Linked DNA regions of Homo sapiens: region 1 is linked to region 2. The links come from fine-mapping of genetic effects on gene expression. A gene starts in region 2. The other region holds a variant in brackets. All regions are shown on one strand. Distances are from middle to middle. Region 1 holds the start of MIR3671 (microRNA 3671). Region 2 holds the start of LINC01359 (long intergenic non-protein coding RNA 1359).

Region 1 (10,496 bases), 55 kb before region 2:
GTGGATTTAAATACACTAAACTATAGTTTAAAAGTATTTTCAAATATTCTGCTTGGCCAACAACTTACGGTGCCTTCAGTTATTTAATATATAATCAGATATTCAAAGGTTTAAAACAATATTTTCATCTTAGTTTATAAATATGAGGGATGTAGCATGTTTTTTGTGCTTTTATTTGTACTCCACATTGATTGATCGCTTGAGAAAAGGTCTTTGTCACCCAGGCTGGAGTGTAGTGGTGCAGTCATGGCAGCCTCAGCCTTTCATGTTCAAGCAATCCTCCCACCTCAGCCTCCAAAGTAGCTGGGACTACTGGCCCTGCTCATACTATTTTTTGTAGAGACAGGCTTCCACTATGTTGCCCAGGCTGGTCTTGAACTCCTGGATTCCAGCAATCCTCCTGCCTCAGCCTCCTAAGGCGCTGAGATTACAGGTGTGAGCCACCATGCCTGGCCTTGTACTCCACGTTATTTTAAAAGTTCTTTGGTGTGCCAGTTTTCTATAAGTGCCTGGTTTTGTAGATAATATTTGGTATATGCGTTATGAAGAAATTGTTCCTAGTTGTATCATTTTTAACATAGAAGAAGTAGTTTAAAATCAGTTTGGGTCCTGGAAGAAAGCATTTTACATCACTGTTTTCTCTCTTCCTTAGTATGCAGTTATTTTTTCTTACTGTAGCATGAGTACCTGTAGTCACTTGTTTATAAATTTAGACAGTTCAGTTCTTAGACGAAACATGTTGAAGAAGAAATATTTCTGATGGATTTAAATTTTCAAAAATGCACGTTTATAAACATTTTCAAGAAAAAGCAAGACACATTTTTGAAACATTTATTTTAAAAATACCATTTTGAAAACCCATATTTTTCTTCCTTGAAACTGCTTTAGAATCTGAGAGAATATTAATTTAAGTAACCATTCACAGAATAATGACAATTTGCTGCTTGTTATTAGGGATGCTTGGCTTCTTTTTTTTTCTAATTTAGGTAAAAAAATGAAATGAGAGAAAAATAAGGAGAAAAAGGAAGTATCTTTTACTTTACCAAAAATGTTTAGTTGTTGCATGGGTTTTGGTGATGGCTAGTAGAGTGAATTTCAACTTTGCAGTACACTTCCTTCGTCTTTATACTTCATATTTAGACATTGAATCACACTAATATTTTGGTGAAGAACAGTCTAATAACTACAAATATGTCAGGATTATTTATTTGTCTCCATACTTACCCAACCTTCAGTGTTTCAGGGTAAGTATTCAGTTTTCCAAAGCTGACAGAATTGTGGTCAAGAAATATTAGTTGATAATCTTATCCTTTTTCGTGGAACAGCTATCTAAAATTTTACTCTAAAATAATCACAGTATCTTTGTTCACGTAGCAGATGTTTATAATTCGGGTAAAAATGTGCAACTATTTCCAAGAACCTTAGGTTATGGGATCCAACTGTGATTTTTTTTTTTTCTTTAATCTTCGTTGCCCTCTCGTGTTTCAACTCTGTATTACAGTTGGCTAAGACCTAGATGATGACCTCCTTAATTTTTAGATATTTTTGCATTTTAGGCAATGTTGTTTTTAATTTGTGTGTAGGTGGATTGTTTCATTGGATGTTGCTTTTCTGAAGATAAGGTCATTTTCATAGTACGTAAAGTTAATAGTTGAGTTAGATTCACTGTACTTTTATTTTCTGACTTCTGCTGATCTAAAGAATTGATTCATCTACCTGACTTATTTGAAGTACAGTGCTAATATCTAATATGCATATAATGAGTCTTTGAAATTGAGCAAATGCCTAATGAAAACATAATTATTTTTCAAATATCTGTCAAGTTCCACTCATATTGAAATAACTTGAAACCTTATGACATGGAAAAAACCCAAGTGAATCATGGTTTTAATAAGTTGATATTCTGATGCCTGAATTCCAATTTCAGAATCTTTTGTACTTTTTATTAAAAGGAAGAATCATCCCTAAAATGACTTCAGAGTACGTCTCAAAGGTACAGATAATTTAAAAGCAAGTGATGTGTATATGTTATTATTACTTTTTAAAAAGGTATTCTGAAGGTTGTCAGTATCACCATAGGTATAGAATTGACATAAACTATAGTGAAAAATATCAATGTTACTAATTTGAGTACATTCTTAGCACTCAGAGCAAGAGGAATGAAAGTCATTTTTGCTAATGTGCATTTTTCTTCTTAATTATAAAGCCCCACTAGCTTCTGCTTCATGATCTCAGTTACTGAGAAAACTAAAACAAAAAGTAAATGTTTTTAGAAATCCTTTTGTTTGTGTAAACTGAATATCCAGTTGATGGAGTTGGACAGCTAGGGTAGGGTAGAGAAAACAAAGCACTGTGTTCACTCATTTGACATGGTTCTGGACATGGGTTCGCCATAACTTAGCAATATATGATCTCTGGCAAATCACCTAAGTTTTTTTTTTTTTTTTCTGCCTATAAAATGGGGTAATAATATCTAATCTATTTCCAGAATCCTTTTTTGATGAATTAATGAATAATTCATTGCCAGCCCCATAGCGTCTTGTGAAAACCAAATGAGAAAACATATAGAGCAGTTTTGAATGTTTGGCAGATATGAAGTATTATTGTCATGTTTGGTTATGAGCACTTTGAAGACAGGAATCATGTCTTAGTTATCTTTATTTCCTGAACATCTAGAAGAGGGCTTTAGAACGTAGTAGTTCCTCGGTATATATATGAAAAATCAATGATTGAGGTCAGGGAGGCACAGTCAGTGAATCCATGCATGGAAGAGATAAGCTGTGAAATATGCTGGAAGCTTACTGCATATTTGATGTATTAGAGTGAAAACCTAATCATGCAGTTGTTCATCCTCATTAATATGGATAAGTCATGTGTTCATCTTTCATTCTAATTTAATTCAACTGGGCCTTTTAATATTTCAGCCTCACCACTTGCTGGGCTCTGATCCTTCTTTTTCTTCTGCCTCCTCACGTCTCCAACCAGAAGGTGATCTTTTAGTCCTTCACTTCATGGGGAGCCTTCAGAGAGAGTAATGCAGCCACCAGAAAGGATGCCGTTGACCGACACAGTGACTGACAGGCTGCCCTGGCTCAGTTATCACAGTGCTGATGCTGTCTATTCTAAAGGTACAGTACTGTGATAACTGAAGGATGGCAGCCATCTTACCTTCCATCAGAGGAGCCTCACCGTACCCAGGAAGAAAGAAGGTGAAAGAGGAATGTGAAACAGGTGGCTGGGACCCAGAAACCCTCTTACCCTGCACCTCTGTCATACTTCTCCCGGGGCATAGGGAGAGTTATTCTGCTTCTCTTTGCCTTGTTTTGTAACATGGGGTAGTTGTTGGTGCAGCCATGTTGTGCTGAGTGAACATATATTAAGATCTTTGGAACCTTTAGGAGACTGAAAATAGGTAAGTATGAATTAGTATTTCTGGAATGGTATTCAGAGAACTTCGTACCATTTTTATAAATGTGAAAGGTAACCTAATTAGAACAGCTTGGCACTTGTCAGTACACTACTAGATTTCAAAATCAGATTCTACTTACAGGGAGAAAAAAAAAGCCCAATATGTTGAACAGTATTGAAATTGTTGCATAAATAAAAGTCCATCATTGTAGACCAGCTTACTGAAGTGAAGAAAGAAAAAAAGTATATCTTTGTCTTGAAGGAGTAGATAGTGACATGTCATGTTTCTTTCAGGATATTTAGGATCTGGCCTAATTCAAAAGAATATTTACTGAATGCCTATGTTATTGCTGCTGCTGTCACATTTACATGAAAATAAAATGTAAATTATTTTATTTCTATCAAATAAGGACTAGTCTGCAGTGATATCTGGCACATATCGATTTCAGGAATACGAAGCTGTAAACACCAAGCCAGCATCACGTGCATGAAAGACTAGGAAATTTTTTTTTTGTTGCCCACACGGGAGTGCAGTGGCATGATCATAGCTTACTTCAACCTTGATCTCCCAGGCTCAAGCAATCCTCCCACCTCAACCTCCCGAGTCTGAGACTACAGGCTCAGGCCACCCACCTGCAAATTTTTAGTAGAGACAGGAGTTCACTATGTTGCCAAGGCTGGTCTTGACCTCCTGAGCTTAATTGATTCTCCCACCTCAGCCTCCCAAAGTGCTGGGATTACAGGCATGAGCCACTATACCCAGCCAGGATTAGGAAATTTAACAGCACACATCTTCAACCTCCATCTTACTCTAGAGAGTACTGCTGGGGGTGAAAGGTGGTTATTGGAGAACCCAGGATTCTGCCAATGCCAATCTCTGCCAATTATCCCTCTTCCCTGTAGACTCCTAAGGACACTGTACACATGTAACAATAGCAAATAAGAAACAAAGTGCATGACTTGATTATGTGTTAGATCTTAGATCACAGTACTGTGCAAGGAAGGCTCAGGTAATTTCATGGAACGTGTTTTAGGCTCAGAGCCTAATCGGGTATATTACCTCATCCTAGGCTCATGTCTGTATCTGGGAGCCTGTGGATGTCTGACTGGTGTAGGAACCCAAAGCAGTGACCCATATGCTTGAGCAAAGAGAACAGAGATGGCTGAGGTTAGGCTGTAATTTGAACCTACCTACCACAGAGAGAAGAGGGGCCAGGGAGAGAAAAACCATTTGTGACTTTTTTTTTTTTTTTTTTTTTTAAAGAAAGAGTCTCAGTCTGCGGTCAGGCTGGAGTGCAGTAGCTCAGTCTTGGTTCACTGCAACCTCTGCCTCCCGGGGTCAAGTGATCCTTATGCCTCAGCCTGCCGAGTAGCTGGGATTACAGGTGTGCACCACCATGCCCATGTAATTTTGTATTTTTGGTAGAGATGGTGTTTCACCATGTTGCCCAAACTGGTTTCAAACTCCTGTCCTCAAGTGATTCTCCTACCCTCAGCCTCCCAAAGTGCTGAGATTACAGGCATTGAGCCACTGCACCCGGCCTCGTGTGACTTTTTAACATACTGTGAACCTTACCTACTATCAGCCCTGCCAACTGCATGTCTTAGATATGGGTCAGGTGTATTATCAGGTCCTCCACTGGGACACAATGGGGAAGAAAGGGAACTGAAAGGGAGTAGGCCTCGTACAGAGAGGTTCTTTCTTATCCTTCATTGTGCCAGTCCTCAGACATTGATGGTCACTGTGTTCCTTTGCTGGTGATTGCAGTTCCCTTTAGTGTCTCTTCCCTCTGCTCTACCCAAAGAGGAACCATTCTTAGTAGTGATCCCTTGAGCCACACTTGGTTGGCCCAGAACTGTTATTTTTTCAGACACATTGACCACATTATAGCCCAGTACCTTCACATGTCCTCATAGATCCACAATTTCTCTAAGCTATATAAGCTACACTACGTTTTTGATTAATTAGAGAGAGGGGTCTCCCCAGTTATTATGCTACCACTCCTGAAATTCTTTGGAGTTTTCTTAAAAGGAATTTCTGACAGAAACTCTGGAAGAACTTTTAGGAAGGGAAAGTTAGGGATTGGTGAATCCTCAAGTAATTTGAAACACTCCTTATGTTTAGTGTTTGAGCAGGTGGAAAAAAGTGCTTCAAGAAGTTATGTGTTGTGCAATCATTGGCCTTGGTGAAGATTTCACCACCTTCCCTGATCTTCCTGTTTTCCCCGTTACTAGTTTTATAAAAATTCATTGGGTTTTATACTTACCCAACCTTGACCTCAAAATCTACAACCAGGCCTGTGGGGTGTTGAAGAACTGAGTGTTGGGTGTCATTTGCAGTCACCCTGCACTACGGACAGAGTCATGCTGGGTCCCCTTTCCTCTAAACAAGAAGGCTGAGGCTTAGTCTGCAGCAGGAGCTCCAGAAGCTTGCCTGGACCTGGAGGTCTTTGGCATCTTCAAGGCATTTCATAGACGTAAGGTGTTCCAGCAGGTTAAGAGAGAAGTGATGCAAGACAGATCCAATGGGGTTTTTCCACTGCCTTGCTTAAAACACAGTGTGTGTTTGGTTGGTATATTCGTTACATTTTTCAGTTTAGGTGAAGTATGTGAGATGGTAAGATTGCAATTAAACCTAGGAATACCGTATAATCCAGCATTTCCACTTCTGGATACATACCCAAAAGATGTGAAAGGC[G/A]GCACTCTGACAGATATTGTATACCCATGTTTATAGCAACATGATTCACAATAACTAAAAGGAGCAACCCAAGTGTCCATTGATGGATAAGTAGATAAATGAAATGTAGTGTATACCTACATTGGAATATGATTCAGCCTTAAAAGGAAGGAAATTCTGACATATGCTACAACATGGATGAACCTTGAAGATACCATGCTAAGTGAAATAAGCCAGACATAAAAGGGTGTATACTGTTATGATTCCACTCACATGAGGCTCCTAGAGTCGTTAAATTCATACAGCCAGGAACTGATGGTTGCCAGGAGCTGGGGGAGAGGGGGGAATGGAGAGTTAGTGTTTAATGGAGTTGTATTTGGGGAAGATGAAAAAATTCTGGAGATGGATGATGGCAGTTGCACAACAACATGAATGTGCTTAATGACACAATGTACACCTAAAAATGGAAAATTTTATGTGTATTTTACCACAATAAAAGAGATTCAGGATAATAACCCTCTTGAAGCCAAAAACAGGATTTAGTTGATTTCTCTGCTCTCCCTTAGTTTTCCGTGTGAAGATAACTGCTGTTTCAAGTAAGCAATTAAAATGTAATTGCCATGTCTTTATGCATTTCAAGTTCTCTAATCTGAAGTCCTTTACACATGTTTCCAGGGTTTCCAACATAGCATAGCTTTAGAATTGTGTAAAATGTAAAGAAAACTCAATATAGTAGCAATGAATATTAAAAACAATGAGAAAAAGGCGTGGACAAGAAGTCACCTGATGTGGCATCTCTTGCTGGCTTTATGTCTTTTCTGGTGAGATTGGGCAACTCACTGGTCCTCTTCCTGTTCCAGTTGCCTCAACTGCCCACGTCTTTGGAGTTATGCTACCACTCCTGAAATTCTTTGGAGTTTTTTTAAACAGAAAAGGAATTTCTGACAACCTATGGAAGAACTCATAAGAAGGGAACGGTCTGGGATTGGTGAATCCTCAGGTAATTTAAAATACTCCTAATGTTTAGTGTTTCAAATTACTTGAGGATTCACCAATCCCAGACCTTTCCCTTCTTAGGGAAATCATATATATAAAATCATATATATAAGAGACTAAAGCAGCATTTAAATGTGGCATGTTATTAAAATATAAACATACAATATATGAAATAATAGTATTAAGTATAGTTTTAAAAAGTATCCTGGTTAGTCTTACAAGTCAAGTATTAGCAGCTTCATTAAAGGAGCATTCTACAGCTTGCTGTCTGTCACGAATAGTTTTCCTATTTGTTGTTACATGCTTAAATTTGATAATAAGAATATAATAATTGAGGCTGGAAATAGCAGTAACCTTCCCTAAGGGATCACATGTTTTATTAGCTGTGGGTAAAAAGGATTCATTTGTGGACCGTATCTGTTTCATCACAAAGTCCTCACTTAGGGTCATGCTTTTAAAACTAAAATCAGATTTTAGTTTTAGGAACATTAGACTACCTCCACCAGATCCTGCACAGTATTCTACCTTGATCATACTACACAGAGTTGGAGCAGACAGCTAGCTGTTGTTCTTGCCTGCCACGCTAATTTCAAATATTTTGCTATGCCTAGTACATTTCTAGCTTCTCTGAATAACCACCCAATTTTAAGTGTGCCACAAACTTGCCTTATCCTGTTTTGGGGGGCCCAGGGGAGACAGGGTCTTCCATAGCTCAGGCTTAGAGTGCAGTGGTGCCATCACGGCTCATTGTAGCCTCAGCCTCCTGATTAGCTGAGACTATGGGTGTGCACCACCATGCCCGGCTAATTTTTCAAAAATTTTTTTGTAGAGACAGGTTTTCACTGTTTCTCAGGCTGATCTTGAACTCCTGGGCTCAAGCAATCCTCCTGCTTTGGCCTCCCAAAGTGCTGGGATTACAGGCCTAGGCCACCACATTGGCTTGTCTATCCTGTTCTTAAGTGAGTATATTTCTTTCAGATCAGTTGCTCTTTGAGACAAACCTCTTACGTTTTTACACTTCAGAGATTTTTTTCCTTTAAAAATTGCTTCTTTAAAACTCTGCATTCATATTTACAGGTGCATTCTATTCATATTTACAGGTGCATTCTATTCATACTTTGTCTTCACCATTACCAGTCATCGTTTTTTGTTTTTGTGTTTTTTTTGAGGCGGAGTCTTGCTCTGTCGCCCAGTTGGAGTGCAGTGGCATAATCTTGCCTCATTGCAACCTCCGCCTCCCGGGTCAAGCGATTTTCCTGCCTCAGCCTCCCGAGTAGCTGGGACTACAGGCATATGCCACCATGCCTGGCTAATTTTTGTATTTTTTCTTAGAGATGGGGTTTCGCCATGTTGACCAGACTGGTCTCAAACTCCTGACCTCAGGTGATCTGCCTACCTCAGCCTCCCAAAGTGCTGGGATTACAGGCGTGAGCCACTGTGCCCAGCCTCTAGTCTTTTTTTTTTTTTTTTTTTTTTTTTTGAGACAAGAGTCTTGCTCTGTCACCAGGCTGGAGTGCAATGGCGTGATCTTGGCTCACTGCAACCTGTGCCTCCCGGGTCCCAGCGATTCTCCTGCCTCAGCCTCCTGAGTAGCTGGGATTACAGGCATGCGCCGCCATGCTTGGCTAATTTTTTTTTTTTTTTTTTTTGAGATGGAGTCTCGCTCTGACACCCAGGCTGGAGTGCCCAGACTGGAGTGTTGCCCAGGCTGGAGTGTCGCCCAGGCTGGAGTGCAGTGGCGCGATCTCAGCTCACTGCAAGCTCTGCCTCCCGGGTTCACGCCATTCTCCTGCCTCAGCCTCCCAAGTAGCTGGAACTACAGGCACCCACCACCACACCCGGCTAAGTTTTTTGTATTTTTAGTAGAGATGGGATTTCATCGTGTTAGCCAGGATGGTCTCGATCTCCTGACCTCGTGATCCGCCCGCCTCGGCCTCCCAAAGGTGCTGGGATTACAGGCATGAGCCACTGCGCCCAGCCTGATTTTGTATTTTTAGTAGGGGCGGGGTTTCACCGTGTTGGTCAGGCTGGTCTTGAACTGCCGACCTCAGGTGATCCACCTGCCTCGGCCTCCCAAAGTGCTGGGATTACAGGTGTGAGCCACCATGCCCGGCCTAGTCATCATTTGTAACCACAAGAATTCTTCATGAAGCATGAACGAGTTAGGTAAGGGAGGCACCAAAAGTCCATTTTGTATTTTTCTTTCATATTTAAGACATGATGAGTGTAAGGATTCCCACTGGAGGAGATTGCCAAGTACAAGAATGTGTGCCTGAGCTGGGTGTGGTGGCTCACATCTGTGATCCCAGTACTCTGGGAGACCAAAGTGGTCAAGACCAGCCTGAGCAACAAAGTGAGACTGTCTCTACCAAAAAAAAAAAAAAAAAAAAAATAGCCAGGCGTGGTGGTGCATGCTTGTAGTCCCAGCTCTTCCGGAGGCTGAGGCAGGATTGCGTGAGCCCAGGAGTTTGATGCTGCAGTGAGCTAGGATGGTGCCACTGCACTCCAGCCTGGGTAACAGCCAGACCCTGTCTCTTAATAAACAAATAAGCAAGCAGGTATGGAACATTCTCAGCTGGGTTCTTTAAGCTGTCTGACAAGGTTTCGGGTTGTAATACATGCTTCTAATGTAAATATGTTAAAATGCACATAATTGAAATGGAGTAAAGTAAGCTGATTATACGTTGCTTTGTGCATTTAGACTATTACTGTATTTTATTTTCCATGAGATTATGAGGAGATTGATGATGTTAAAAGGTGAGAAGAAATAGAGAACCATTTCGATTTAGTCTGTAGAAAATGTATTTTCACTTTTTTGCTACTATCTTTGTAAATGAAATTGCAGAAAAATTACTTAGACTCCCATTGGTTTTTTTCAATTTGAAAATGAGTATCTTCGAACCAGGAATATCTTGGGGTCCACTGGGGGCTAGCTGTCTAGGGCACTTTGCTGGGAAGACTTCTGAGACCACATCTGGGCTCTGCAGGAAGGAGTGCTGTAACCACCTTTCTGGGTCTACCTGTGATCAACCCGGGTGTGCTGTGGACATCAGACTGAGGAGGAGTGCTACATTTGCTGATACCTTAGTATGCAGTATTGGTAGTGTAGAAGCTTAGATCCTCTGGAATGGCAGAAATTCCCAGATTTATATTGATAGGGACTAGATTTCTGGAAAACCATATCACTGGGAATATAGACACCCTTTTTTATGGAGAGGGAATTATGGATTTTTAATTTTAAAAGTCTAGTGTAATATATAGTGTATATTGAGACATGAATCTTTCCACTTATCATCATTCACTAATTTCTGTTAAAAAAAAAAAAACCTGACATACCTATCAGGTCTCAAGCTATTCTAATAGCACTAGTCTAATAGCATAAAATTTGCTACTGTTAAATAAATGCTTATCCCCT
Region 2 (10,496 bases):
AGGGAAATATGAAATCAGATATATGAGTTCCCCTTTAAGAATGGAAACTGGGTTGGGTGTGGTGGTTTATACCTGTAATCCCAGTGCTTTGGGAGGCCAAGACAGGAGGATTATTTGAGGCCAGGTGTTCAACACAGCAAGACCCCATCTCTACAAAAAATAAACGAATTAGCCATGCATTGTGGCAAGCACCTGTAGTCCTACCTACTCAGGAGGCTGAGGCAGGACGATCCCTTGAACCCAGGAGCTCAAGGTTACAGTAAGCTATGAGAGTACCACTGCACTCCAGCCTGGGCAAAAGAGTAAGACCACATCTTTAAAAAATAAAAAAGAAGAAACAATAGAAGCCGTTTTAATTAAAGAAAAGCCATGAAGCAAATCACCTAGACCTAAAGATATTTTCAAATTCAGATACTGTCTGGTAAAATATTTCAGTCTGTGTGGATGGGAAAGCTAAGTTTATGACATAGTGAACTATTCAAAAAACCTTAAGAGATTCATCAATTAGTTTACCAAATACAATTTGAGTTTACCAAACTCAACTCTCCATTATAAGGAACAGATACTTCTATATTATTTCTTCACACTTATGTGAAGAGATAAAATCTCTCTTGCTTAGAAAGCCCATATTTATTGTTTACTTCTATATTAGTGTAGACATCAAGGTTAGTGAAACATTTAATTGTGAGATGTCCTAAAATGGGTGTGACTGGTGTCTGAGCATGAGAGTTCACAAATTATATTTATCTTAATTATTATGACTTTTAAAATTTTAATATCTGGAATGGCAACTTATTCTTCTGCAAGATCATCTTATTATAACTTATTCTTCTGCAAGACCATCTTGGCTAATTTTGGCCCTTTGCACTTCCATATACATTTTATAATTAAGTTGTCAAGTTCCATCAAAAAGTCTGCTGGGATTTTAATTGGAATTGCAATCAAATCTATAGGTCAATTGGAGATAACTCACATATTTTTAAAGAATTAATTGATTTTCCCTCTTATTTCTAGTTGACATAGTACATATTTATTGGATACAATGATATTTCAGTACATGTGTACAATGTGCAATGATCAAATCTGGGTAATTAGCATATCCATCACCTTGAAAGTATATCATTTATTTGTGTTGTGAACATTCAAAATTCTCTCTTCTAGCTTCTTGGAAAAAAATACATTAAATTATTGTTACCCGTATGCACCCTATAGTGCTATAGAACACTAGAACTTATTCCTTTCATCCAGCTGTAAATTTGTATTTGTTATGTAACCTCTCATCATCTTCCCCTCCCACTACCCTTCCCAGCCTCTAATAACCACAGAAAATTCACTTTTTTTTTTTTTTGAGATGGCGTTTTGCTCTTGTTGCCCAAGCTAGAGAGCAATGGCGTGATCTCGGCTTACTGCAACCTCCACCTCCTGGGTTCAAGTGATTCTTCTGCCTCAGCCTCCCCAGTAGCTGGGATTACAGGTGCGTGCCACCATGCCCTGCTAATTTTTGTATTTTTAGTAGAGATGGGGCTTCATCATGTTGGCCAGGCTGGTCTTACAGTTTTCGTTTGATAAAATGCTTTTTGTTTGTTTGTTTGTTTCTTGAGTTCAGATTCAGTAGCCTGGTATAATGACAAACTAGAAATCACAGTATGGGAAAAATATAGGAGATGATGCTTTGATTTCAGGAATATTGTGGATTATCAAACTAAAATTAGCAGATTCTATTTAGCCTCTTAGAATTTCAAAAATTTTTAGACATTAGTATACATCCCCACCTTCACGATATCAGAAATAAAGGGTAGTGAAGATAGCAGAGTGAAATATGAGAATTGTCTCCATTTCAGAAGGTATTTGGCTGAAATGAGACATTTCACAATTTGGTCTTCTGGTCTGCTCATCACTGGAAGTCCCAGCTTCTTCCTGGATAAGAAGTTGTACTTGGATTATATTATTATAACCACATTGTAATTATTATTGTGGAAACACCACAGACAACACGTAAAAGAATTTTTAGTCATAATCCCTACTTATAGTCTTGATTCCTTTGATCTTCACATCTACTTGTTTTGCAATTTTGGTTCCTAAATCAGACATTTGGTATAGTTGGTCAGCCTAGAAACGTCAAAGACAAAAGCTGTCTAGCTATTTGCAAGATTGTCATTGAAGTCCCTTGTGTTTGCACAGATTGCATCTGTCTATTCTGAAAGATGAGCAACAAATCCAGTCAAAGCCTGAGTGAAATAACTGACAATCTTAGATCAACCCTGATGGTCACTCACGAGTCCAGCAGTTTCTATGCAGAGCACCAAACACCTTACTTACAAAAGTAAGGTTAGTGGGAGCTTGGTATTTTCCATATCATCTTGGAGAAGCACTGTTTTGCTTATTCTGTTTTTCCTCCTCCTCCTCTTCCTCCTTTTCTTCACATATTTTGTGTGAATAAGAAAGTACTATTGGCTAGGCAGGTTGGCTTATTCCTGTAATCCCAGCACTTTGGGAGGCTGAGGCGGGTGGATCACCTGAGGTCAGGAATTTGAAACCAGCCTGGCCAACATGGTGAAACCCCGTCTCTACTAAAATACAAAAATTAGCCAGGCATGGTGGTGCACACTTGTAATCCCAGCTACTCGGGAGGCTGAGGCAGGAGAGTCAGTTGATCCCAGGAGGCAGAGGTTGCCATGAGCTGAGATCGCGCCGCTGCACTCCAGCCTGGGCGACAGAGCGAGAATACGTCTCAAAAAACAAAACAAAACAAAAAAGTGTTATTTATAGGAATAAGAACTAAAATGCCTTGTTAATATATTGTTTTGGCATTGCCAAATTTAGCCTATTTGAGTGCATGGATTGCATTTGGGGATTGCTGTTTTCTTTTTTGTTTTGTATGTTTGCTTTAGATGCGTAGACAGAGGGAGTGGAGTAAGGCTTTACAGAGATTACTACAGAAGGCATTTTTTTTTTTCATAAAGAGGGGAAAACGCACCCATCTCATAACAAGAATTTGGAGTCAAAACGAGACAGATTCCATTCCTGCCTTCCACATTAATTAGCTAGGTGACTTTGGGCAAATCACTTAACCTCTAGGTTTTCTCATCAGCAGAATGAAAGCGTTGGCCTATAGACACCCATTTAAATCCCTCCTCCAAATACTCATTCGTTCGATATTTTCTCAGTGTCTACTAAGCACAATCATTGTTAATAAACACTATGATTCTTGGAGAGCTCCAAATCGTGTCTCTGCTTTTAAGCATCATTCCCCTTCCTCCTTTAAAACCAGCGCCTGACTTCTCCCCCAAACAAATCGAAACACTTTTACCGTCTGAAAATGTACATGGGAAAAGAAACGCGTTTCATTGCAGTCACCCGGCGCCAACCTAGACCTGGCGGGCCAGCGAGCTCGTGAGATTTTCTTTCTTTCTAAAGGACAATCTCCACATTTTAAAGGGCAACCCAGTTACCCGAAGAAATACAACTTAAAGGGCGCCTGGAGCCAGGCCGGGACACCCACCCACGCTTTTCTAGGCTGAGGAAACCTGGGAAACTTTTGGGCTCCCGCCGAGTCACGCGGCTGTTCCACGGTAAGAATTGTGCAATGGGGCGAGTCAGGCGGGCGTCCTAGTAGGGAAGAAGCGGGGGAGGCTGCTGCGGTGCCAATGCTTTTCTTAAAAAAAAAAAAAAAAAAAAAGCTAGGTTGTCTCACGCCGTGCGAGGCGCGACGGCGCGGCCGGACAGCCCGGTTCCCGCTGGCCCCAAGCCCGGGCCAAGAAAGCATCGCTTCCCCGCCGGGACCTGGAAGGAGCAGCGCGTGCGTGCGTCCCCTCCCGGGGGCAGAGACTGCCCGCCCGCCACAGCGCTTTCCTGGGACTCTGCGAGGGGCCGGGGTGCGAGCGGGAACTGCGGCAGGCGCAGACTGGCCACATCGATCGTGGCGGGGAAGTCCGGGCTCGCGCTTTCGGTAAGAGCGCCCGGGCTTCCAACTGCGCGGTGCCCCCGCCTCCGCCGCCGCCGGCCAGGCTCGCACTTTCGGATGGTGACGCATCCAGCTGGCTCCGCGGAAGCCTGCGCTGAAACCTGGAGCCCTCCGGGGTGGCCTACTCCTCAGCGCTGCGTTACTGAGCGCTCCCTGGGTGCAGGCTTGGTGATCCAAGTTTGGTCACAGTCATCACTTATGTCACTATCCTTGTGATGTACATACTATAATTAGCGTCACTTAGAAGTGAGGAAACAGGCTCCAAAAGCTTGTTACTTGCTTGTAGTCAAACAGAAGGCAGAGCTGCGAATCAAATCCAGGTTTGTCTCGACATGCCACTAGCTCATACTTCCCTTGGATCAGCCACTAAATGGCTTTCACTCCAGTGAGCAGCGACCAGGTAACACATAGGACGGGTGCGTGGCGGTACCGAGCCCACTGCCCAGGGGCAGCGGGGGCGCTTGCTTCTGGCTGGGGCTCACTCATTTGCCCAAATGGGCTGTAAAATATATACATACACACCCATATATGTGCATATATACACATACGTATATACACACAAACATACGTATATACGTGTGTGTGTTTGTGTATACATACATATTGGACAGCATACCGCAGACTCTGAGCCTCAGTTTTCAATCTTGTATTGGGATCAGGGCACCTATTGTAAGGAGTAGTTGGAAGATGAAATAAGATAGTTTTAACATAGATGCCAGCATCTCGGGGACGCCTGATATATGCCATTTTGCTCTTTTTGCAGCACTCCTGGGGACATCAGGGCACTCACGCTCCTTAACACTGGACAGGAGACCTGCGCAGTCATTCTAGGTCAACACCCTCTCTGACAGACTAGGAATTTAATCCACTCAACGGGAAAATCACTTACCTGCATCACCATCTAGTTACTGACAGACACCAAGCTAGGGTTCCTGCTACCCCTCAAACACACATACCACACACTCACACTCAAACACTTGCTGCCCCTCAAACACACATACCACACGCACACACACTTGCTGCCTTTCAGGCACACATACCCCCCCCCCCACACACACACTTTCTACCTCTCAAACACACATACAACACACACATTTGCTGCCTCTCAAACACACATATCACGCACACAAACACACTTGCTACCTCTTAGACATACAACACACACACTACCACACACACACGCACACATGCACCCCCTCTTTTCCTCCTGGAAGATTCAGACCAGCTCTGGGGCCTGAACGTGACTTCCTCCGAGCGTTGGCAGTGGCGTGGGTGGGGACCTCCGGGAAGGCGAGCAGAGGAAATCAGTCACTGCACTCGCCGCCAGCCAGCGCACAGGGAGAGGGGGACCCAGCCCAGAGGTCCCGCCCCCAGCTCCGCAGGAGGCCTCTGCTGGCGGAGGCTGGGCCCCTTTTGGTAACAAGGGGAATCACTGCAGCCCAGTGAAAGATAAACGCGTGGGTCGGGCTGTGGAATGTCCAAAATTATGAAGATTAAGGAAACAGGCTTTAGGATTCACTTGAAAAGTGAAATCGGCGAATGAAAGTTTTCTAACATGATGAGATCTTGGAAATTGTCCACTCCATTTTTGGGAGGGGTTTAATAATCACTGCCCAACTAGAGCAGCTGTTTTTCCCCTTCCAACGCCCCATTTTGTGAATTGATGCTGAAATAACTGGCCAGGTCTTTCCTTTGGGCACCCTGGAATGTTGGGAATATGAATGGCCTCTTAGTAGAGTTGGAGCTCCAAAGGAAAGGACCCTTTAGAAACAAAAACTTCCATGGCGCCACCGCACTCCAGCCTGGGCCACAGAGTGAGACCCCATCTCAAAAACAAAACAAAACAAAAATCCAACCGCCCCCCCACCAAAAAAAAAACCCTCCTTTTTAAAAATCACAAAAATAATTATTATTCATTGCAGAAAAATCAGATTTTTTCCAGAATCAGAAAATAAATGGAAATCCCACCACCCAGAAAACCACTGTTAACAATCTGATGTATAGCATTATATGTAATCACATCGAACACAATGCTTTGTCACCTTTTTCCTTTGAATCAAATATCATGGAAAAATATTTTCCATACGTGTTTTTAAATCACTACTTCGTATTCCATTGTACATTTATTTAACCAAAGCCCTATTGAATAACTTAAAAATTGTGTCCGGAAGTATTGCTATTTAAACAGGACTGGAGTGTGCAGCTTTGTAGTTATTTTTTTTTTTTTTAAGAGATGGGGTCTCTCTCACCCAAGCTGTAGTGCAGTGGCACAATCATGGCTCACTGCAGCCTTGACCTCCTGGACTCAGGTGATCCTCCCACCTCAGCCTCCCAAGTATCTGGGATTACAGGCAGGACTCATCTTGCCAGGCTGTAACTATACCTGAACACATTCTCAATTATTTGCATGGGTAGATTTTCTGGAAGTGGTATTGCTGGGTTCAGGAATAAGGATTGCCCTACAATGATCTTTTAAGACTTACGATGGCCAAGGCGGGCGGATCATGAGGTCAGAAGATCAAGACCATCCTGCCCAACATGGTAAAACCCGTCTCTACTAAAAATACAAAATTAGCTGGGCATGGTGACACATGCCTGTAATCCCAGCTACTCGGGAGGCTGAGGGAGGAGAATCGCTTGAACCAGGGAGTCAGAGGTTGCAGTGACCCAAGATCGTGCCACTGCACTCCAGCCTGTTGACAGAGTGAGACTCCATCTTAAAAAAAAAAAAAAAACTTATGATTCTCTCCCCCAACCCCCAGTATTTTCCCAGACTTTCTATAATGTTTATTTACCAAAAATTGCTTGAGTGCCCATCACATGCCAGACATGCCAGAATATAGAGATGGATACATTATAGCACAGACCTGAAAAAAATACACTGTAGTTCAAGGTGCCGTAGATACTGTTAGAGAAAGCTTTGGGCAGCCAGGTGCCCACCCAGTTTGGGGAGGATCCTGAAGAACCAGTAGACTTTTTTTTTTTTTTTTTTTAAAGAGAGGGTCTCACTCTGTTGCCCAGGCTGGAGTGCAATGGTGTGATCATGGCTCACTGCAGCCTTGACCTCCCTGGCTTAAGTGATCCTCCTGCTTCAGCCTCCCAAGAAGCTGGGACCACAGGCATGTGCCACCACACCCAGTTAATTTTTTCTATTGTAGAGATGGAGTCTCCCTATGTTGCCCAGGCTGGTCTCGAGCTCCTGGGCTCAAGCCATCCTCCCACTTTGGCCTCCTAAAGTGCTAGGATTACAGCCATGAGCCTTTGCACCCAGCCTGACTTTCTTGAGACCAACAGATTGAGAAGTGAGAGGAAGTTAATGGGGAGTACTGAGGAAGGATGAGAAAGGCAAAGAGAGAGCCAAGGGGAATGTCCTATACAGAAACAAGGTGCCCAGGTATGTGTTCAAATAAATGAACACATGTGAGTTATCTTATGTGCTTGCACTGAGAGTAGAGCTGAGAAGGAGGGCAGTGACATATGGCAAAGAAACAGCCTATTATGTCATGCTGAGAAGGTTTGGACTTTGTTCACATAGCAACAGGAGAAAGTGATTTATAGAGCCTTCAAGGTCATGATGAAATTAGATCTCATCACTTAACCCAGTGAAGGGCACTGTCTTCTGTGGACCCCAAAAATCATTCCTGAGGAGAGAAAACAAAAGATAGGAAGATTTACAAGGGAAATATCCCAAATGAGTATTGAAATGAAAACTGCAGAAAAATGAATCAAATTTACTACCATGTTCATCATACTTAAGTGCTGTAGTTATTGTTAGTTAAGTTTGGTCCTAAACATCTGTATTAGTCCATTTTCACGTGGCTGATAAAGACATACCTGAAACTGGGCAATTTACAAAAGGAAGAAGTTTTAGTTGGTCTCAAAGTTCCACATGGCTGGGGAGGCCTCACAATCATGGTGGAAGGCAAGGAGGAACAAGTCACATCTTACATGGACGGCAGCAGGCAAAGAGAGAGCTTGTGCAGGGAAACTCCCATTTTTAAAACCATCAGATCTCCTGAGACTTATTCACTATCACAAGAATAGCATGGAAAAGACCCGCCCCCATGATTTAATTATCACTGGGTTCCTCCCATGACACATGGGAATTCAAGATGAGATTTGGGTGGGGACACAGCCAAACCATATCAACATCCTCTTCTCTTTTTCCACTTAAAAGAGAATGGCTTTAATACTAATCTTACGGCCAGAGATTACTTCAGTTTCCTGTTGTAATAGGAAAACAAATCCAAGACTTTCAATGAGTCTAAAAACATGTTACATAGATTTTAGTATGTGAAAGCCTTTTGTAAACTATAAAGTAGTACTCAATGAAAGACATTTTTCTGGACGGTAGCTTAAGAAAAACTTGTACAAAGGGTTAAAAACTCAAATGCCTGCTGTGACCATGTAAGTATGGTAATTACTTTCAACAATGCTTGGAAATTCCCAGCTGTTGTCTCTTTTACTATTTCCTCTCCCTCATTTTCTCTATCTCTTTGGAGAATTGTGATTACATGTGTATTAGACATTCTAATATATAATCCAAGTCTTGTAATCTCTCTTTCATATTTTGCATCTCTTCATACTCTTTGGACTGCATTTAGGACAGTTTTTTAGGATCTGACTTCCAGTTCATGAGTTTTTTCTCCAGCTGTATCCAATCTTCTTTTTAACTTGTTTGACTTTTTAATTTCTATCTTTTTGTTCTATTTCTAGAAGTTCTATTTCAGATCTGTTTGGAAAAGTTTGTATAGTCATTTGTTTCTTCACCATATTTACAGGCTTTTATTTCTTGAAACAAAAGTTTTAAAGATAAGATGAGAGGCTGTCTCGTCTTGTGGCTCTGGGCTTCCATCAGCAGGAAACAAGAGGGATCCCTGGGGTAACCTGTGCCTTGGAGAAGAACATTCCTTCTCTATCCTTCACATAAGCATTGTCAAGAATGAAGAGGGAGGCCCAGGACTCTGTATGTTCTGGAGAAGAGACTCCTCCCCACAACAGTCCCCGACAGCCCCACACTCCCACACTCATACCACCATTCTCTGCAACCATTATAAACCCATTATGCCGTTGTCCTTGTTTATGTCAGTCACACAAAAAGTCCAGGACCCCTAGGTTATCTCTCATACCCAAAGCTAATCCCAGCGTGGCTCTAAGGACAGTGAAATATCCTATATTATAATACTCTGTATCTCTCTTCTAGATTTTTTTTAACCACCTACCATCCTACATCTTTTATTAAGTAATTTGTCACCCCTTCTTAAAATGTAAACTTCTTTAAAGCAAGGGTGTTTATTTTGTTAGCCACTTTATCCTTAAGGCTTAGAACAATACCTGGCAAATAGAAGGTATTCAAATAATATTTGTCATGTGAGTTAATATTAAACATTCTTATTTTATATTCTATGTCTTGTCATTCTACATTTGAAGACTGCATGTATGATTTTTACCATCTCCTCCTTCTAGTTTTTACCCATTGTGCCGTTTACTTTTATGTTTTGTGGATTTTGACTCTGGGTTTATATTCCTTGGATTTTATCCGTAGAAATTACTTGAGGCATAGATTGACGTTACCTTCATTCAGAGATTATTTGTGTTTACTTTTACTAGTTGCCTGGGGTTAACTACTTACTCAGGACCAAATTAATCTCTCTCCTTGATTTTTTGTTTGTTTTTGTTTTTAACTATGTAAGTGGGTGACTTGACCTGCAAACCCATGTGTATGACAGTATCAACTGTGGATATAAATTATTGAAAGAGGAAATATACATATTTCCTCTACCAAATGCCAAGGTACAGATGGGCAAGTTTCCTTGCTCCTTTCTGTGCAGCAGGTTTCTTTCCTGTTCATCATTGCACTGGAAGTGCAGCCCCTTTGGGGTTTGCAGCTTTGTTAGATTTTCCTGTCTTAGGCGAGCTTCAGCTTGAGCTGATGTCTAAAAATCCGGTGTTCTTCAGATTTCTCAAGTGTAGCCTGATTTTTATGTGAATTCAGCAATTTTTAAGTGTTGGCAAACAGTTTAAAAAATGTTTTAATGTGCTGGGAAAAAATCACCGCAGGTCATATTTGATCTGTATAAGTTTACAATCTCTCTTCTAAACAGACTAAGCAATTAACCCACCAATCAACCCATGTGTATTGTATTTATATGATGCAGAATGCATTTTGTTAGAATGTATCTGTTAGATACAATAACCACAAATGTGGAAGGAAAAGTCCAATTTTAGATTTGTTTCTTTTTCTCTACAAATGTAATTATCAGATTATGTGTCTACATTTTTAATTCGGGAAATATCACTGTATCTATAATATGGGGAAATATAGGACATAGTTTCTGCTCTCAAAAATTTTACATTCTATGCATTACAGAATGTGCACACTGGATTGAAGTGTCAAGAGATTTAAAGAAGAGCAACTAGAAAGTCATTGGCTCAGTCTGAGTCTGCTTTAAAGGAGCCTTAACTAGGGTGGGCATGATGGCACTAGAAGGAAAAGGGCAGATATCAAGTATTTAAAAGATGATGTGATAGG

Evidence for each region.
Region 1: its variant is fine-mapped to the expression of LINC01359 in whole blood (INTERVAL, PIP above 0.99).

What each region holds. Positions count from the first base shown.
Region 1 is chr1:65,051,096-65,061,591 of GRCh38, reverse strand. It overlaps MIR3671 (microRNA 3671), which reads left to right and starts at 3,750; the gene lies at 3,750-3,837. MIR101-1 (microRNA 101-1) reads left to right here and starts at 3,084; the gene lies at 3,084-3,158. It also overlaps a transcript of JAK1 not described here. The variant G/A (reference allele first, on the strand shown) is at 6,107.
Region 2 is chr1:64,996,197-65,006,692 of GRCh38, reverse strand. LINC01359 (long intergenic non-protein coding RNA 1359) reads left to right here and starts at 4,217. Exons shown (of 7, transcript NR_119383.1): 1 at 4,217-4,364. It also overlaps a transcript of JAK1 not described here. RefSeq lists a silencer at 3,852-3,991 and an enhancer at 4,122-4,201.